Linked DNA regions of Homo sapiens: all the other regions are linked to region 3. The links come from fine-mapping of genetic effects on plasma protein levels. Region 3 holds a variant in brackets. A gene starts in each other region. All regions are shown on their reverse strands.

Region 1 (6,943 bases), not on the chromosome of region 3:
GAGCTGTGTTTGTACCACTGCGGTCCAGCTGGGGTGACAGAGCGGGAACCTACCTCAAAAACAAGAAAGAAATGGAGACAGAGAGGAAGAGAGAGAGACAGGGAGGAGGGAAGAAGGAAGGGAGAGGGGGAGGGAGGAAGGAGGAAGGGAAGGAAGGAAGGAAGGAAAAGAGAAAAAAGAAAGAAACCAGTATCAATTGAATATTGTGAAATTCCTATCTGTTCCTAGTGAATTTTTTTTTTTTTTTTTTTTTTTTTTTTTTTTTTGACACAGAGTCTTACTCTGTCGCCCAGGCTGGAGTGCAATGGTGCAGTCTCGGGTCACTGCAACCTCCGCCTCCTGAGTTCAAGCAATTCTCCCGCCTCAGCCTCCTAAGTAAGTAGCTGGGATTACAGACACCTGCCATCATGCCCGGCTAATTTTTGTACTTTTGTACAGACAGGGTTTCACCATGTTGGCCAGGCTGGTCTTGAACTCCTGACCTCAGGTCATCCGCCCTCCTTGGCCTCCCAAAGTGCTGGGATTACAGACGTGAGCCACCACGCCCGGCCTCTGGTGAAATTCTTTCTCTCCTGAAGCAACTCTTCAGTATAGTAACCTGAGAAGTAAAATTTTACATTATAAGAAACTTTCGAAGGTGGCAAAAAAAAGAAGAAGAAATAAAGGAAAAAAGAAGAAACTGAGGCACAGAGAGGTTAAGCAACTTGCCTCATGTACCACAGCAGAGCTGGGATATGAAACTCAGGCTCTGATGCCAGAGACTGAGACCTTCATCACTGTGCCCCACTGTCTCCCATGATGACAAATTCCTGCCTTCTGGGACTTAAGGGATGACAGAAAGAGAAAACCCACAAAGGCTGAGTGGTAAGGTTTCAAGCATTTGGCACTTGCTCAAGAAAACTGTAGCCACTGTATTTATTGTTGTCTTCTTCCTTTATCGCCATCCAGTAGAGCCTGGGATGCAATGGGGGTAGGGACTGAGTAAAAGGAGAATGGGGCTGGGTGCAGTGGTGCACATCTGTGATCCCAGCACTTTGGGAGGCTGAGGTGGGAGGATCACTTGAGCCCAGAAGTTGGAGGCTGCAATGAGTGAGCTATGATTGTCACTGTACTTCAGGCCAGGCAACAGAGCAAGACCCTGTTTCAAAAAAAAAAAAAAAAAAAAGGAGACTGGGAGAGGAGGTGGCACCTGCCAAAGGTCACACGGCCAGTCGGGGGGCGTCTCCTGGACTTCAAAGCTCAGAGCCCCCCATCCCACCCCTGCCTTTTGTTCCTTCTAGAGAGATGCCTCCAGTACGTCTCTCCCAGTTCAAGGCAGGCTGAGGATGCAGAGGTCGCCAAGCTGCCCTCCCCTGCCGCCCTGATGAATTCCGCAGACTGGGGGCCTACAGCCCGGCCCGCCCAGGGCAGGGCGGCTGCCTTCACAACATACTTTCCTTCTGCATTCACAAAGGCAGGCAACGGTGGGGGCGGGAGGCAGGGAGCCGGGGCGCCCACACGTCTCCTGGCTGAGCAGACGTCTGCCAGGAAGGGCCCCGGGGCCCCATCATGCAGGCACCCGTCCCTCTTCCCCAGCCTGGCCGGGCTCCTGGAACCACGGGGCCTGGTGTGGGGCTGGCTGGGGCGCCGGCCAGATGCTCTGGCCAGGAGGTCCTGGGCCGAGAAGACATCCCAGTTAATGAGGGGCTCGGGCCAGCGAAATGCTGGATTCTGTTTCTGTGGCAAGGACAGAGAGGGCGGGTATGAAGGGCTTGAGGGTCTTGCATGCCTCAGTTCTAATTCTGGCTGTGTGACCTCAGACTGTCTCTTCTCCTCTCTGAGTAAGATAGAAATAAGAACGATCTGAGGTATAAGCGACAGGCACAGGGTATAAGTTTTTTTGTTTTGTTTTGTTTTTTTGAGACAAGGTCTCACTCGGTCGCCCAGGCTGGAGTGCAGTGATGTGATCTCGGCTCACTGCAACCTCTGCCTCCCCGGTTCAAGTGATTCTCCTGCCTCAGCCTCCCGATTAGCTGGGATTACAGGCACGCGCCACCACGTCCAGCTAATTTTTGTATTTTGAGTAGAGATGGAGTTTCACGTTGGCCACACTGGTCTCGAACTCCTGGCCTCAGGTGATCCACCTGCTGTGGCCTCCCAAAGTGCTGGGATTATAGGTGTGAGCCACCACACTGGCCCACGGTGTATAAATTTCATATGGAATAAGCACGCTAGTAGCGCTGGAGCTGGGCGCTGGGCTGAAGGATTTCCATGGGTCAGCTCATTCAATCCTCTCAACAGTGATCATCCTCATTTTATGGGTGAGAAAACTGAAGCACAGAGAGGTTAAGTGACTTGTCCTAGGTCACACAGTAAGGCCATGCTCACCAATATTTGAACCCAGGCTGTGTGGCCCCCTTCCCTGCCATATCAAGTACAGAGGTGGCAGGGGTTACTAGGATTCATATGATAATGTTGGCTGGGTGCAGTGGCTGAAATCCCAGGGTTTTGAGAGGCCGAGGAAGGAGGATCTGTTGAGCCCAGGAGTTCGAGACTAGCCTGGGCAACATAATAAGACCCCCATCTCTATTTTAAAAAAAAAAAAAAATAGTAATGACATTACATTAATTATAAAAAGTAGTAATGGCCAGGCGCGGTGGCTCACGCCTGTAATCCCAGCACTTTGGGAGGCTGAGGCAGGTGGATCACCTGAGGTCAGAAGTTCGAGACCAACCTGGCCAACATGGTGAAACCCCGTCTCTACTAAAAATATAAAAAAATTAGCTGGGCGTGGTGGCAGGTGCCAGTAATCCCAGCTACTCAGGAGGCTGAAGCAGGGGAATCACTTGAACTCAGGAGGCAGAGGTTGCAGTGAGCCGAGATTGCACCATCGCACTCCAGCTGGGCGACAAAAGTGAGACTCCATCTCAAAAAAAAAAAAAAAAAATAGTAATGAACACGAATCATAGGGATGCTGTCCCGGCTCACCAAGCCCTCCAGCCTAACCTTTCTACACCAGTCCAGGCCCCTGGGTGGGAGCCCCTCAGGCTCGGAGGGACAGAGCAAACCACAGACACTCACAGTCCCGAGGATCATGGCTAGGCTGGAAGGTTATCTGGAGAATATCAGCAGGGAAGGCTTCCTGGAGGAGGGGACATTATAGCTGGACCTTGAAGGATGGAGGAGTTTGTACGAGGTGGGGGGAACAGCAGGTACAAAGGCCCAGAATGACACCTACAGTGAGTTATTCTGTAATCTGAGGCAAGTGTGGTGTGCACAGGAGGAGGGGACTGCTGCCTAGAAGGGGGATTTCAGGGCTGGCGAGATCCAGGAGGCAGGAGTGTGACCCCAGACATCCCCTTTCCGGGCCTCTGTTGTCCGATCTTGGGACACCCTCAGGAACTCCACCTTTGTAGTTCCCTCCGCCTGGAATGCCCTTCCCTGCAACTCCCCGTGGCCCAGCCATGGATAAGGCCACGTGTGTCCAAGCCCCAGCACTGTGACCAGCCTGTGGCAGGGGCCTGGCTTCCATGTGCTCCTGTCCTAGCTGTGTGCAGCATATGCCAGCCCCCAGGCCCCACTGGAGCTGTGGTTTTCCCGAGAATTCCAGTGCTGCCAGGAGCGGCCCCCAGGTGTGCTGAAGGCCAAGGAAAACAGGAGGTGAGCTCATGGCCCCAATGTAGGCAGCAGGCAGGGCAGGCACTATTGAGGACAGGCTTCATTGGAAATGCTCTGGCTGGGACCAGCTGCTTCCACCAACACTCCACTTATAGGCCTGTCTCTCTTCACGCACTCTCTGTGGCTCCCCATTACCCTCGGGAGACCACTGGAGCCCCACACCACCAGCACTGCCCTTTCACACACAGCCTCATCTCCTGCTTCTCACTGAGCCCCAAGAGCTTGTCACCTTGAGGTCAGTCCATCCAACGGGCCAGGTTGGTTCCTGCCTCAGGGCCTTTGCCTATGCTGTTTCCTCTACCTGGAATGACTTTCTGCTACCTCTGCCTGGCTGTGTCCTCCTCATCATCCGGTCCTCAGCTTGGTGGTCCCTCCTCCTCCAGAAGCCCGCCCTGACCCATCCCCTTTCAAACAGATCAATTTCCTGGGGACTCCTACCATTGTCTGTGTGTCCCGTCACAGCCATGAGCCCACTGGGCTCCCCATTTGAAGGAGAGACTGGGTCTGGCTTCTTCACCCTGTGTGCCCATCACCCAGCACAGGAGACATGACACACAACAGTCCTTGATGTTTGTGAAATAATTATTGTGTCTAGAAATGTCCCCACCTCCAAGCTTCACATGCTTCCCTCCACCAAAACTGCCCTCACCTTTTCCCTCTGCTGATCCAAGTCCTCCTTTTCTTTTATGTCTGTCTCCTTGCTACCTCCTCCAGGAAGCCCTCGGTGACTTCTCTGTAGGCTCCCCAGAAAACATATCTGGCTCTGAGTCTAGATTCACCCCTGCCCTCGGGCAGTGGCCTTAGGCCAGTCACTTTTTCTCTCTGGGCCTCAGTTTCTCTGTCTATAGAATAGACGCTGTGAGTACTGGAAGGTGGGAGTGGAGAGTGTTAACTGATTGCAGGAGGTTAAGGGGTTTTGTAACTCCAGAGTGTGGCTGGCCAGTTAGCGGTAACTTTTATTTTTATTACAGGCTGTTCCCACAGCAGCTGGAGCACAGTTTGGAAGGTATGGCACAGCCTGGACAAACAGAAGCCCCGGACCTCCCCTTGCTAGAGCCCTTTAACTTGCTCCCCTCCAGATGGGGGCCTCACACCCCATTGCGCAGATTGGAAAACCAAGTGGGCCTGTCCCCTTGGACAGGGGTTGGGGCAAGATCCTGAACGCTGTCCCCTCCTCCACCAGCCGAGGGACCATGGGGAGGGGAGGGAACACCAGCAATGAGTTGGGTTGGGGGGAGTCATTTGCAGCCCTCCAGCGTTGGGGCCAGAAGCGGCCTCCTTGGACAGAGGCAGGAAAATTGAGAGTCCCAGGTCTCAACTGCCCCTCCCCTATTTTCCATTCATCATCATAATCATCATTACTATTAATCATTAATTAATAATTATTAACTTATTACCTCCATTGTGCAAGGGAGGAATTACGCCTGGGTAATTTTTGTACTTTTAGTAGAGATGGGGTTTCACCATGTTAGCCAGGCTGGTCTCAAACTCCTGACCTCAGGTGATCTGCCCGCCTTGGCTTCCCAAAGTGCTGGGATTACAGGTGTGAGCCACCGCACCCAGCAACTTACCCAGTTTTGAAGCACTTCAGGAGGAGTGGAGGGCCAGTCAGTCTGATCCATAGTGGGTGGACCTATTTTTTCAGACGCTGGTGACTCTGTTTCCCGAAGTGTGAGCTGAGAGCGTGGCCATGGAGCCTGCCTTGTTTGGAACTGGAACTCAGGTTTGGCATACAGCAAGCACTCAATCAATCAATCAATCAATGAGCTGAATGCTATGGCTGGATCCTGTAATCCCAGTTATGTGGGGAGTATCGCTTGAGGCCGGGAGTTTGAGACTACTAGCCTGCAGGACATAGCCAGACCCGGTCTCTAAAAATAAAAATAAAAATAAAAATAAATTAGCTGGACTTGGTGGTGCGGGCTTGTAGTCCCAGCTACATGGGAGACTGAAGCAAGAGGATGCGATACAGCCACACCCCGTCACACACACACACACACACACACACAGACGCACACACACAGTGAATGAAAGTGGGGGCAGTACCCCCTGACTCCCTGCCCCACCAGCTCTCTCCACAGACCCCGGGACTCAGTTTCCCCACCATGTCGGATTCAGCCGCGGGCGACTTCGCGGGGCATTCCGGGCGGGGACTTGAACGCAGGGGCCAGCGCCATCTGTTTACCTTGAGGCTGGACGTTGGGCAGGGCTGTGGTGGGCCGTCCCTGGGGCCGGCCGTGCCTTGGGGATAAATAGGCCCCGCGGGCCTCGTGGGCGGTAGAAAGCGAGCAGCCACCCAGCTCCCCGCCACCGCCATGGTCCCCGACACCGCCTGCGTTCTTCTGCTCACCCTGGCTGCCCTCGGCGCGTCCGGACAGGGCCAGAGCCCGTTGGGTAAGCCGCGTTAGCACCCGCGCCGTGCCCACGGCCCCACAACGGACTGTAGGACCCGTGAGAGGCCCGGGATCCAGGCTGTTTGGGGCTCACGGACTGTTCGTAGGGGACGTGCCGGGCGCAGAAAGCAGGTGGCGGGACCGAGACTAGAGGAGCGCAGTGGGGCCTCGGAGGTCCGGGTTCGCTGCAACGGTGGGAGTTGGTGGTGGGATTCCCCGGCCCCATGACGCCTCACCAGGTCCCCTGCCGCCGCAGGCTCAGACCTGGGCCCGCAGATGCTTCGGGAACTGCAGGAAACCAACGCGGCGCTGCAGGACGTGCGGGAGCTGCTGCGGCAGCAGGTGCGGGGCCCGGGTGCGGGGCAGGGAGTGCCAGGGAACGGAAGGGGGTCTCAGTTCCCAGCGAGGAGAGAGGAAGTACCCGAGAAGGTGGAGAGGAGATGGGGAGGGAAGGGGGTCGGCGGGTAGGGAGTCCTTGGCGAAAAGAGGCTGTAGAAAGGGACCCCGGGGTAGAGAGAGGGGAGACCCGAGGGATGAGGAGAGGTTGGGACCCCGCTGATTCCATCCCACCCCTGCAGGTCAGGGAGATCACGTTCCTGAAAAACACGGTGATGGAGTGTGACGCGTGCGGTGAGCGCGGCGGGGCGGTCGGGAGAGAGAAGAGACGGGAGACAGAGACACAGAGACAGAGACAGAGAGCCAGGGAAAGCTGGGGAGGAAAAGAGACGGAAGGAGATGGAGGCTGACGGAGAGGTGGACGGACGAACGGGAATGGGATGGGGTGTGTAGAAACAGAGACAAAAAGAGACAGAAGCGGTGAGAGAGTTTTGGGGAAGTGAGAGACGCCACGGGGCAGAAAAGCGGGACAGAGACTCAGAGAAGAGACCGGGGAG
Region 2 (7,103 bases), not on the chromosome of region 3:
CGCCTGGCTGGAGAGCATTGGCTCGATCTCGGCTCACTGCAACCTCTACCTCCCAGGTTCAAGCGATTCTCCTGCCTCAGCCTCCTGAGTAGCTGGGATTACAGGCACATGCCATCACGCCCAGCTAATTTTTGTATTTTTAGTAGAGACGGGGTTTCACCATGTTGGTCAGGACAGTCTTGATCTCTTGACCTCGTGATCCACCCGCCTCGGCCTCCCAAAGTGCTGGGATTACAGGCGTGAGCCACCGTGCCTGGCTTCTGCTTTCTTGATGTCTGTCTCTGTTCTCTCTCTCAAGAGCCCGCAGTCCAGAGCAGGTCAATGTCATTCTAGACTTGGCTGTGCCTAGACACGGGGCACCTTGCAGATCCCTTCCCCTCAGTGGGACTCAGTGACCCCATCTGTAACAAGGAGTGTGGCTTGGTGGATCTCTACAGGCCTTAGGCACTGATGAGAGAATGAACCTTTGCTGCCCTGCTGTGCCCTGACTCCAGGCCCCCCAGCCCCAAGCACTCACAAGGAACCATTCCAGCATATAATGGTCGTGGGTTCCCGTAGGGGTGCAGTCCAGAATGACAGACTTTCCTCGCATCACCTCCACCAGCGGGGGTACAGACAAGCGCACCTCCGCCTGGGCATCTGCAAGAGAGCAACTGAGCTATCATCCACCACACCAACAGGAAGAGCCCTCCAGACAGGGTCCCCTCTCCCCCAGGACACAAGCGTCCAGGTCCCAGCCCCTCCTCCCTCAGACCCAGGAGTCCAGGTGCCAGCCCCTCCTCCCTCAGACCCAGGAATCTGGGCCCCTGTCCCCTCCTCCCTCAGACTCAGGAGTCTAGGCCCCAGCCCCTCCTCCCTCAGACCCAGGAGTCTAGGCCCCAGCCCCTCCTCCCTCAGACCCAGGAGTCCAGGCCCCAGCCCCTCCTCCCTCAGACCCAGGAGTCTAGGCCCCAGCCCCTCCTCCCTGAGATCCTTTCGCCCTCCATCCCTTCTCCCTGCATCTCTGGGTCTCAAATCCATCTCTCCCTGCACTTGCAGAGCTCAGGGCTCCTCCTCTGGGCTGCACAGGGCCCTGTGGCCTCCGCTGAACACTCCTGGGGTAATACTGCACCAGCCTTTGCTTATCCCAACAGAGCACACGCCACCCCCCAGGGCAGGGCCAGGCCTGGCTCAGCCATTTGCCTCCAGCACCCTGGGCAGGGCCACCTCTGTGATGATGGATAAATGTTTCTCTCCATCCTGGTCTCCACCTTTGCGTGTGTCTCTCCTCTTGGGTCTCCATCTCTGTCCCTGTCTCTGCCTCTCTCTGCACCTGCACCACTCAGTCCCTGGGTCTCTTCCGCTCTCCCATGAGTGAGGGGCTGGGGTGTGGGCTGCGGCTGGGCCCGGAGCTTAGGCGGGATGGATGTGTGGGGGCGGTGAGGGGGGACAGGGCTGGGCAGGTTTCAGGAATGTGGGAGGGACAGGCTGGCTGAGACCTGCCCGGCCTGGAGCCAGAGCCCCCAGCCGCCTCTTGGCCCCCCTCAGTTTGATACAACAGCAAACGGGATAAGTCGAGTCATCTTGCAAAAGGATAAGGTTGAGGCCCAGGATCTTGGGAAGCTGGGCACCTGGACTCCTGGGATCAGAGGGAAGAGGAGGCTGGGGCCTGGTGGAGTAGTTATTGTAGAAAAACCACCACCCTCCCTCACCCTCTGGGCTGGCATCCTGGCATCAGCTCTCAGTGCTTCTTAGAAACTCCCTTCCCTTCTCTGCTCAATCTGGCCCAGCCCTACCCCTGGGGACCCACTGTTGACCATGAGTGTGCCAGGGGCCTGGATTCCCAAGCGCTCACCTCTGGCCCCAGCCTGTCCCCAGGGAGGGGTGACGGGGTCCAGGCTGGTGCCTAAGGCTGGGTCTGATCTGCAGACAAGTGGAGGCAGAGAGTTCCTCTCTCTTCCCCAATCTCTCTCATCTCTCTGTCCCTCTGTCCCCAGCACCCCCACCCCCACCCCCCAGCCCCCGGCCTCCTCTCCTTCTATCCTCATGCAGGTGTGTAAATGTAGCTGAGGCCCCAGGAAGGGGGCCTGTCACTTGGAAACACTTTGTTCCACTGTCACTGCCCGGGGCTGGTGCTCCAGCCCTTTCCTGAGGGAGGCGGGTTCTTTATACTGGACTCTGGAAACTCCTAAATACATGTGGATCGCTGGTGTGGGGACACATGGTCCTCGCTTCTCTAAGGGGTCCCTGGACCTCTCAAAACTTGAGGACCTTTGAGGGAGAGAGCCCTGGGGTTTTGATCCTCTGTGCCCTGGGGGAAGCTATTCTAGCCACTGGAGGCCTGGACTCCTGGGTCTGAGGAAAGAGGGGCTGGGGGCCCAGATTCCAGGGTCTGAGGGAGGAGGCAGGTGGGACCCAGATTCCAGGGTGCTGAGTGGGAAGGGGGCTGACTTCTCTGGTTGTCTCTGATCCACCGCCTGGGTATCCCCAGCTCTCCTGCCTGGCTGTCCCCAGATCTCTCTCACTGGAAGGCGTACCTTCCAACACTCCCATATCCCTCCTCCTTGGGGTCCCCACATTTTGCTTCCTGGGGTCAGGGTAAAGCCCTTTCTCCTCGCTTTCCCGGGGTCCCCAGGGGCCTCTCCCCAGTCCCACCTTGCCCTCAGCCCGAGCCATACCTGGGTGCGCCGCCAGCAGGACTGCGAGCAACAGCAGCCGCGGGGCCCCGCGCGCCTGGGCCGGTGCGTCCGGGGGCTCCATGTTCACGGCGGCGGCGGAGACTGAGCCCGGGCTGCAGCTCGGCCGCTGCGGGGCTGGGAGCCAGAGGCCCCGCCCCCGGCAGCCCCGCCCCGCCCCGCCCTCCAGGCCCCCCTCGTCCCCCGATGCCCGGGCGCGGGGCCAGGACCTCCCACTGCCCGGAGCGGACCTCCCAGTGCACGGGGCCAGGCTCGGGGCTCGTCCGCCCCCAAGCCTAGAGCTGTCCGGGCTTACTGACCAGCGCCTGCAGCGGGGGGCCTGATCGACCAGCGTAGCCAGTGACCCGAGCTGGGATCTCACCAGGCAATCGCGGACCTTCTCCTCGTTATTCTGACCAGGGGCCTTGGGGACTCGTCCCCACTGTGACCAGCAGCCTGGGCTGGCATCGTCGATTTTAACCAGAGGACCCCACTGCAACCTGTGGCCTGCGATGGCCTCTCCCAGTGTAACTAATGGCCCCAAGCGTGCCGTCCGAGTGGCCTGCACTGGCCTCTCCCAGTCCAACCAGTGACCCCCGCAGCCTGACCAGTGGCCCCCAGCAGCTGCTCCCAGTATGCCCGGAGATGTTTTCCCCTGTGGTCAGTGCTCTGGGCTGCTTTCCTCGTCTGACCAGTAGCCTGGAATCAACCGGTTTAATCTCTTATTTTCAATGGTCTTCAAATCCAGGTCCTCCTAGGCCGCTTCGATGATGGGGCTGGGGGTGGGGTACGGGGTGCCCTCTCTGCTTGCTCACCCATGGAAGGCCCTCCCACTCTTCCCCCTATCCAGGGAATCCCAGGAATGCCACCCTCCCTTCCTCCTTCCCGCTCTCTCCTTCATTCCCTCCCAACCTTGTGGGGAAGGGAGGAGTCAGACTGGCCAGAGCAGGTGAGGAGGGCAGGGGAAGAGGCCAGGGCACCTGCGGGAAGGGGGAGGAGTCCAGCCACTGCTAGGAAGCGTGGGTCACAGGTCCGACTGCCCAAGGCCCCTACAGGCCAGGTCAGACTGGGACAAAATCCCCCACTAGATGTCACTAGTTGCCCAGGACAGTGGTCAGAACGTGGGAGGGTGGGGGGTCGCTGGCCACACTGGGAGAGGTTACCCAAGCTTCTGATCAGCCTGGGGGTTGAGGTAGCCCTGGAGCTGGGCTTTGCCTGCTCAGACATACAGAGAAGGCTTGGATTACAGGTCAGCCTGGGAGTTATTAGACTGGTCAAGGTTACTTTATCCATTGGTCATACAGGAGACCAACGTTTTTTTTGTTTGTTTGTTTTGTTTTTGACAGGGTCTCGCTCTGTTGCCCAGCCGGGAATGCAGTGGGCGCAATCATAGCTCATTCAAACCTCAACCGCCTGGGCTCAAGCAATCCTTCCACTTCAGCCTCCCAAGTAGCTGGGACTATAGGCTTGTGTTACCATGTCCAGCTAATTTTTGTATTTTTTTGGTAATAGAAACAGGGTATTACTATGTTGCCCAGGCTGGTCTCCAACTCTTGGGCTCAAGTGATCCTCCTGCCTTCCAAAGTGCTGGGATTACAGGCATGAGCCACTGCATCCATCCTACAGAGCAACTGTTACATTGGGAAAGACCTTTTAGGATTAACTGTACCATCCCCTCCTCCAGGAAGTCCCCTCTGCCTTCCCTGGCTGGGTCAGGTTCCCCCTCTGGGCTCCCCCACCTGAGCCCGGCACACTCTGGGGGTCCCTGGCTGGGGATAGGTCTGTCTCCCTCAGTGGACTGTGAGCCTGTGAGGGCAGGGCCAGGGATGTCTTGATCACTGTGGTGAGCTAAGGGCTCCTCCCCTGGGCACCCCGCCCAGCACAAGACCAGACACAGTGCAGGTGCTCAGGGAAGGTTTGTTTGCAAGGCACACAAACTCACGTGCAGATTCCATCCAGACTGGAGCATCCCAGGATATACAATACAAACTCACTCATGGGGAATGCGGCGGCACTCCAAGACAGTCCCAGGTGCTGTCAAGCTCACACACTGTGAGCACCGACACCCATACCCTAGCTCTTCTGTCCCCAGCCTGTGCACCTTCTGTTTGGGCTGGACCCTGGTACATGCCCTCTCAGCAGCCATCGCCCACTTCCACCTCCCTCAAGAACCCAGCCAGCTGAGGCTGGGCGCTGTGGCTCATGCCTGTAATCCCAGCACTTTAGGAGGCCGAGGTGGGTGGATCACCTGAGGTCAGGAGTTCGAGACCAGCCTGACCAACATGGTGAAACCGCATCTCTACTAAAAATACAAAATTAGCTGGGCGTGGTGGCACATGCCTGTAATCTCAGCTACTCAGGAGGCTAAGGCAGGAGAATCGCTTGAATCTGGGAGGTGGAGGTTGCACTGAGCTGAGATCGTGCCACTGCACGATGTTGCCTGGGCAACAAGAGTGAAATTCTGTCTCAAAAAAAAAAAAAAAAAAAAGAAGAACCTAGCCATCTGAGGTTCTGGGTGAGGGAGGAGAACTCTATGGCATGTGTATGAAGGAGAAAAGTCAGAAACACCAAAACAGCAGCCGTGGACCCTTGCAGACTTGCAGAAACTAGTCTTGTAACATCATCTGCCTTTGTCCCCTGTAATTTATTCTCACAAAACAGCCTGAAGGATTCCTTTTACATGTGAATCAACTCATGTCACTCTTCTGCCCCAGGGTCCTCCCATGACTTCTGTCTCACTTAGGGTAAAAGCTGAGGTCCAGGTCAGCCGCAGGGACTCACGTCTGTAATCCCAGCAATTTAGGAGCCTGAGGCGGGAGGACTGCTTGAGCCCGGGAGTTTGAGACCAGCCTGGGCAACATAGCGAAACCCCGTCTCTACAAAAAAATATAAAAATGGCCAGTCATGGTGGCCCATGCCTGCAATCCCAGCACTTTGGGAGGCCGAGGTGGGTGGATCACCCGAGGTCAGGAGTTTGAGACCAGCCTGGCCAAAATGGTGAAACCCCCTCTCTACTTAAAATAAAAAAATTAGCCAGGGGTTGTGGCAGGTGCCTGTAATCCCAGCTACTCGGGAGGCTGAGGCAGGAGAATTGCTTGAACCTAGGAGGTGGAGGTTGCAGTGAGCTGAGATCATGCCATTGCACCCCAGCCTGGGTGACAGAGCGAGACTCAGTATCAAAAAAAAAAAAAAAAAAAAAAAAAGTTCTAATTCCATCCATGCGGCCGCAGGTGTATATCCTCACATATTTTAACTAACAAGGCTTATCTTTTCTGAAACTCTGGGCTCAAGCGATCCTCCTACCTCAGCCTCCCAAAGTGCTGGGATTATAGGTGTGGGCCACCACGGTTGGCCAGACTTACCTTTTCATTGTTTTTGAGACAGAGTTTCACTCTTGTTGCCCAGGCTGGAATGCAATGGCGTGATCTTGGCTCACTGCAACCTCCGCCTCCCAGGTTCAAGCAATTCTCCTGCCTCAGCCTCCCAAGTAGCTGGGATTACAGGCATGCGCCACCATGCCCGGCTAATTTTGTGTTTTTAGTAGAGACAGGGTTTCACCATGTTGGCCAGGCTGGTTTCGAACCCCTAACCTCAGGTGATCCACCAGCCTCAGCCTCCCAAAATGTTGGGATTACAGGCGGAAGCCACAGTGCCTGGCTGACTTATCTTTTCTTGACCTTTTTTCCCATTATTTTTCACACAGTGTGTGACGATTAACTTTACAACTAGCTCACAGCTTGTGGAATATGGGGAGAATGACATATTTGGAGGGGAATGGTTCTTCCCTGATTCCAGTCTCAGATCTGGAAAATGGAACTATTGAAATTTTTTGTATTGGGTGGCAGTGTGAATGCATTTTTTGATTGTACAATGAGAGACGGTTGTGCGGGGAAAGTTTCGATAAGAACTTCTGCAAAGGGCCTATTGATATTGAACATTCAAAGCCAGCTGTGGTGGCTCATACCTACAATCCCAGCACTTTGGGAGGCTGAGGCAGGTGGATCGCTTGAGCCCAGGAATTTGGGACCAGCCTGGGCAACATGGCAAAACCCTGTATCTACAAAAAATACATATTAACCGGGGGTGGTGGTGGTTTGTGCTCGTAGTCCCAGCTACTCAGGAGGCTGAGGTGGGAGGATCGCTTGAACTGGGGAGATCAAGGCTGCAATGAGCCAAGATCGTGCTACTACACTCCAGCCTGGGTGAAAGAGTGAGACCTTGTCTAAAAAACAAAACACAACAAAAAAAACCAAAGGAGCGGGCTATAGTACATATTTTGCGGGAAGGATTACCTAGCATCTGCAGCTCCTTCCCACATTTAAGGAAATTCCTACTGTCTGAAAGCCTCTGTTGCCCACTCTTGAAGCCAACAAGAATGGATGTTTGCTTTCCTGCATCTGTTGGAGCTAAGGTGACTTAAGCTTGGCAAATCCTTCCACACTTTTGAAT
Region 3 (6,731 bases):
ACCAGCCTGGTCAACATGGCAAAAACCCGTCTCTACTAAAAATACAAAAGTTAGCCGGGTGTGATCATGCACACCTGTAAGCCCAGCTACTCAGGAGGCTGAGGCAACAGAATCGTTTGAACCTGGGAAGTGGAAGTTACAGTGAGTCAGGATCGCACCACTACACTCCAGCCTGGGCGACAGACGCGAAACTCCATCTCAAAAAAAAAAAAGAAAAGAAAAAAAAGAAAAAGAAAATCTGATTGTTTGGTCAAAAGGTATATCTTTATTTAAAGGCAAGTGGAATTCTTTCTTAGAATAAAATATGTTTCTAGATCTTTCATTAAGCAGAAAATAACCCTCCAAACATTTATGTTGTCATTTTTCAAAAGTAGAACAGGAATTTAGAACATTTTAAAGCAGAAACTAACGATTAGCTGGCCAAACCGTTACTAGAGTGTGGAATATGTTAGTAATTCAAAAAGAAGCTACTGGAAACATTGTAATTTTTAAAATTTTTTAAATGAATAGTTTTATCTTCAAACGGAAAGCCTCCACATTCGTTGTCTTTGTGATAAAGTTGAAAAGTTTCCATCCTATTAGAAATGTGATGTAGTTCTCTTACTGATTGTTTTTAACATGTAAATTTGAGATTATCCTGACCGGAGGGAAAAAGATAGTGAAAATGTAGGACAGAGGACCAAAGTTTCTTTGTCACTAAGGCTGTACATGACTGAAAAAAAAAATGATGGTTATAGAACAGAACAGACAAAACAAAAATGTTTCTCAGACATTGTTTCACTGGCTTATGAAAATAATAGTTTAAATGGGTCATTTGTGGCTTTCAAATATAAATAAATCATATACAAAAGTGACTGCCTAATTTACATTTATATATATTTCAGAAGCAAATACATTTAATTGAATTATGTATATAATCACATTCAGGGTTGGTTTGTTTCTTTGAGACAGAGTCTTGCTCTGTCGCCCAGGCTGGAGTGCAGTGGTGCAATCTGGGCTCACTGCAACCTCCACCTCCCGGGTTCAAGCGATTCTCCTACCTCAGCCTCCCAAGTGGCTGGGATTACAGGCGCGTGCCATGATGCCCAGCTATTTTTTGCATTTTTAGTATAGACGGGGTTTCACCATGTTGGCCAGGCTGGTCTCAAACCCCTGACCTCAAGTGATCCGCCCGCCTTGGCCTCTGAAAGTGCTGGGATTACAGACGTGTGCCACCATACCTGGCCCAGGGTTTGTTTTTTAATTACATAAGTGTGTATATCACATTAGTAAAATTAAAAATTAGGATCAGTACTAAAATCTGTGAAGTTTAAACAAAATGCAGCCAACCACCCCACAAAGAATTTACCCCATGACCTTGACCTCGTTGAAACAAAGATTTATCAGGCTACAAGAGGCCACTGGGGCAAAAAATAAATCCAAATCTTGGGGAAGGGATGTCACAGAAGATGGTGGTGTGGGAAACTCCAGGAATTCATCCCTCCATCTAAGCAGCCATCAAATGGACAGGAACTGACTGAAGTAACTGCAGGTGCTCCTCTACTCATGATCAAATTAGGCCCTGTTAAACCCAATGTGAGTTGAAATATGCTAAGTCAAAAATGCACTTAATACACCTGACCTACCAAACATCACGGCTCAGCGTAGCCTACCTTAAACGTGTTGAGAACACTTACATTAGCTTCCAACTGGGCAAAATTGATAGGGACAGGAGGCAGAGAAGTGCTAGGTAGAGAAGGGCAGGATCCCTGGCGAGGGCTCCACCCTCGGACCTGTGCCCACGGACCTAAGTGGGAACAGGCACTCCTGTTTTCATGCGCAAATGTTACATTTCCAAGACCACTATGATTCACCACACCCCGCATCCTGTGCCCATAAAAACCTGAGACCTTAATGGGCATAGACACAAGCGCTAAACATTGAGAAGAGTGAAGGAATAGAGCAGTGGAGAGCAGTGGGGTGGCGCAGCAGAGAAAGAGAGAAGAAGGACATCTGGACACCAAGGGGAGTTTGGCCAGCAGTGGTTGGAGAATAGTCTGGGGGGTTAGGCAGCCTGGCTCCAGGGGAAGACCACCTTCCCACTCCACTCCCCACTTCCAGTTCCCCATCCATCTCGCTGAGAGCCACCTACACCACTCAATAAAACCTTGCACTCAACCCTCCAGCCCACATGTGATCTGATTCTTCCAGTACACTGGGCAAGAACTCAGGCTGTCACACTGCCTCCCTGTCCTTGTGATAAGGCAGAGGGTCTATTGAGCTGACTAACACAAGCTGTCTGCAGATGGTATAGCTGAAAGAGCACA[C/G]TGTAACACACGCCCACTTGGGCTTCAGGAGTCCTAGATGCTGCCGTGGGGTGGAGCCCAAAAGCACTCCCCACAGCCTCTGCACCTGCCCATCTGCATGCTGCATGCTCCCCCCTAGGGGTTTGAGCAGCAGGGCACCAAAGGAGCAAGCCTCATTCCTGTCGCACCCCCTGCGAGGGTCATAAGGGAACTCTTCTATTTCAAAATCATCTAACAAAACCTATTTTATAATACAGTGTTGAGTATCTCGTAATTTATTGGATATGGTACTAAAAGTGAGAAGCAGAATGGGTGTATGGGTATTCGAAATACATTTTCTACTGAATGCACCATTTCTATTTCACATCATCATAAAGTGGGTAAATCATTATGTCTAACAATCCTAAGTCAAGGACCATCTGTATTTGGGAACTAGTCTAGTCAGAAACTTGGAGCATCCAAGGGAGAGCTTGATAAAGAGGCTGGTACATTTCAGCGAATTTCAGCTTCTCCCTGTGGTTATGGCTGTGTCAGGCAGCTGTGAAGGGGGAAGCAGCCCACACGCCCAGTGCAGCTAGGTGAGGCCAGGCCGGGCAACAAGGATTTAGCCCTCCAAATGTCAGGACTGTGTGTTCTGATTGGTGCTTTTATTTGCTTTCATCACTTCTCTTCAACTTAGTACTGGAAGTTCTAATAAGAGCATGTAGGAAAGAAAAAAATAAATAAAAGCATCCAAATTAAAAAGGAAGAAGTGAAATTATCTCTGTACACAGATGGCCTGATTTTAAATGTAGGAAGTCCTAAAGCTTACACACACACACACACACACACACCACACACAAATACCACATACACATACACAATAGACACATACACACCACACACACACACCACACACACATACATACACACGCCACACACACACACATACACACCACACACACAAACTGTAGCACTAACAAATTTAACAAAGTTGCAGGACACAAAATCAAAACACAAAAATCAGTTGAATTTTGATACACTTGTAATGAACAATCTGAAAATAAAATTAAGAAAATTCCATTTGCAATAGAATCAAAAAGAACAAAATACTTAGGAATAAATTTAACTACGTAGACAAAAGACTTGTCCACTGAAAACTACAAATGGTTGCTGAAAGAAAAAGACCTAAATAAATGAAAAGATACCCTGTGTTCATGAAATGGAAGACTTGATATTGTTAAGATGTCAATATTATCCAATATAATCTATAGATTCATGCAATCCCTATCAAAATCCCAATGATTTTTTTTTTTTGCAGAAATGAAAAACCCCATCCTAAAGTTCATATGGAATTTCATGGGAGTCTGCACAGCCAAAACAATTTTGAAAAAGAATGAAGTTGAACGATTCACACTTCCTGATTTCAAATCATACTACAAAATGACAGTAATCTAAACAGTGTGGTACAGGCATAAGGATAGCCATATAGGCCAATGGAATACAATAGAGAGGCCAGAAATAAACCTATGTGGGCAGTTGATTTCCAACAAGGTGCCAAAAGCATTCAATGAGGAAAGAACAGCATTTGTGCTGGGAAAACTGGCCATCCACAGGAAAGAGAATGAAATTGGACTCTTACCTTACATTAAATACAAAAATTAACCCAAAGTGGATCAAATGCCTAAACATAAGAGCTAAAAACTATAAAACTCTTAGAAGAAAACGTCAGGAAATAAAATCTTCACAACATTGGATTTGACAATGATTTCTTGGATTGGATACCAAAAACACAAGCAATAAAAAAGTAGATAAAAAGGCCTTTATCACAGTTAAAAACTGTGTCCACCAAAGTACACTATCTAGAAAGTGAAAAGACAGCACAAAATAGAAAATATCTGTAAATCACATATCTGATTAAGGGATGAATATCCAGAATATATTAACAACTACAACTCAATAACCACAACAAAACCAAATACAAAATGGTCGGTGGACCTGAACAGATAATTCTCCAAAGAAGATATACAAGTGGCCAATAAGCTAAGCACATGTAAAGATGCTCAACATCATTAGTCATTAGGGAAATGTAAATCAAAACTACAATGAAATAGAATTTCACACCCAAAAGAATTATTACTTTAAAAAAACAGAAAATAACAAGTGATGGTGAGAATATGAGAAATTGGAACCCTCGGGCATTGCTGGCGGGAATGTAAAATGGTGTAGCCACTGCGGAAAACAGCTTGGCAATGCCTCACAAAGTTACACTATAATTATCATACGATCCAGCAATTCTACTTCTAGGTATATACCCAGAAGAACTGAAATTAGGGACTCAAACACATATTTGTACAACAATGTTCAAAGAAGTTTTACTTATGATAGCCAAAAAGTAGAAGCAACTCAGGTGTCTGTTAGCAGATAAACAAATGTGGTATGAACATACAGTGGGATATTATAGAGCCGTAAAAAGGAATCCTGATACCTGCTATATGTACAACCTTTCAACATTTTGCTAAGTGAAATAAGCCAAACATAAACGGACAAATATTATGTGATTCCACTTATGTGAGGTATATAGAATAGGTAAATTCAGAGACATAGGAAGAAGAGAGTTTACTAAGGGGTGGGAGGTGGAGGATGGAGGAGAATGGAGAGTTATTGTTTAATGGGCACAGAGCCCATTGGATGTTGGATGATGAAAAGTTCTGGAAATACAGAGTGGTGATAGTTAAACAACATGGTGAATATGTTTAGAGCCATTGAATTGTACAGTTGAAATGACTACAATAATAATTGTGTTATGTATCCTTTACCAAACTTTTTTAAAAATCCAACTCATGCCATCCTGTCTACACCCTTCTACTAAGTTCTGGTTCTGAATTTTGGTTAGCTATTGATGATGGTGGTTATTTTTAACTAGTCCTTTCTTCAAGCTAAAATATAAAGGAAATTCTCATTTTTTTATTGGCAAGACAATCAACTGTGTCATTTCCTCCTAGACTTTCTCAAACACCAGCCACCTCCTACCCACTCAGTTTCACGTATGATGAACTTAGTGTCTGCTTTGCTCTGAAATAGTTCCAAGAAAAATAGCTGGGCAAAATTTTTCATAACCTGTTACATCATTTCTCACAGATAAAACTGGTAAGCCCTTCAGAAATGGTGTTTTCAGTAAGCCTATCTTTTAATGAACAAATTTATTCAACTCTTATCAACATAATTCCTACCAGCCAAAAGAAAAAAAAGATATTTTTGAGTAAAAATTTAAAAATTTAGATGTTCTTATACCTCATATTTTTCAGTCCTTACCAAAACCATAGCAAAACATCAACAATGCATTTACAGTTTAATAGAAAACTACTATATCATAGCAATCCAATTTCTTTGCATTCAATTACTTACATAAAATTAGGCTTTAATTGTAACTGTCTTCAGATAACATATTTAGACTTATTGTAATCAACAGTGTGTAGATTCATAGTATTTGAAGGACCTTTGAATTTTGTATTTCTATAACCAATACTTTGTTTCATTTGGTTTTGTCTTGGCACACATCGTTTTAATATACTAAATTTTACAAAGTAATTTAATTAAAAGGCTATTTGACCCATTTAATTTTTGAAACAAATTTTTTTTTTTTGAGATGGAGTGTCGCTCTGTCACTCAGGCTGGAGGGCAGTGGCGCAGTCTCAGCTCACTACAAGCTCCGCCTCCTGGGTTCACGTCATTCTCCAGCCTCAGCCTCCCCAGTAACTGGGACTACAGGCACCCGCCACTACGCCTGGCTAATTTTTTGTATTTTTAGTAGAGATGGGATTTCACCGTGTTAGACAGCATGCAGGATGGTCTCGATCTACTGACCTCGTGATCCACCCGCCTCGGCCTCTCAAAGTGCTGGCGTGAGCCACTGCGCCCGGCAGAAACAAATTTTAAGAATAAGATTAAACATGTGTTTATAATCTGAAAGTGACCTATACTTTACAGATGGAAACCAAGACACAACAATGTTGGGCTGGTTCTTCAGAACAACACTTACTATGTAAGATTATGTATAATTTTTAGCAATTTGAAACGCAAATTTTCTATTTATTCACTCAAATATTCTGAACACCTCTAAGGTATCTGAGTTAAATATTTAAAAGAAAAAAGTTTTGTAGAGAAAGAAGGCATTCCTTAAAAATCCATTATTTCCATTTCAATATAAGAATAATTACAAGTTAAAATAAAAAATAATCTTATTAAAAATAGGCATATCTTGGGAAATTAAGATGTGTGTATATATAAATGCACACTTTCACAGCAAGTGTTACTTTAGTAAATATTATCCTCAAATTCATATAAAACCATACCTAGTCTATAACAGGCACTCAAATTTGTCAAATGACAAATTAATGAAATTTCCAAAAAATAATCTTCAGGATATGGTAATATATGTAAAAGCTCTTGTAAATAATTGTTAAT

Alleles and levels. Positions count from the first base shown, and alleles are read on the strand shown. Strength reflects both the effect of a copy and how common the allele is.
In carriers of allele G in region 3, the plasma level of the protein whose gene starts at base 5,937 in region 1 tends to be higher than with C alone (weak association).
For the plasma level of the protein whose gene starts at base 2,761 in region 2, allele C in region 3 goes with a lower level than allele G (moderate association).

The links. PIP is the chance, under the fine-mapping model, that this variant and not a neighbour inherited with it causes the effect. The UK Biobank Pharma Proteomics Project read protein levels with antibody pairs (Olink). The fine-mapping took linkage between variants from a reference panel, not from the people measured, so its PIPs are less certain.
Region 1: COMP starts here. The variant in region 3 is fine-mapped to the plasma level of the COMP protein (UK Biobank, PIP 0.99).
Region 2: it holds the start of BCAM, and the variant in region 3 is fine-mapped to the plasma level of the BCAM protein (UK Biobank, PIP above 0.99).

The regions. Positions count from the first base shown.
Region 1 is chr19:18,790,299-18,797,241 of GRCh38, reverse strand. It overlaps COMP (cartilage oligomeric matrix protein), which reads left to right and starts at 5,937. Exons shown (of 19, transcript NM_000095.3): 1 at 5,937-6,051; 2 at 6,307-6,392; 3 at 6,629-6,680. The coding sequence starts at 5,973. RefSeq lists enhancers at 1,533-2,062, 5,618-6,196, 6,197-6,777, 6,778-6,943.
Region 2 is chr19:44,804,761-44,811,863 of GRCh38, reverse strand. It overlaps BCAM (basal cell adhesion molecule (Lutheran blood group)), which reads right to left and starts at 2,761. Exons shown (of 15, transcript NM_005581.5): 1 at 2,658-2,761; 2 at 518-639. The coding sequence starts at 2,739.
Region 3 is chr10:17,801,769-17,808,499 of GRCh38, reverse strand. No RefSeq gene overlaps it. Among named protein-coding and RNA genes, the nearest start is that of MRC1, 4.2 kb to the left of the region's middle. The variant C/G (reference allele first, on the strand shown) is at 2,307.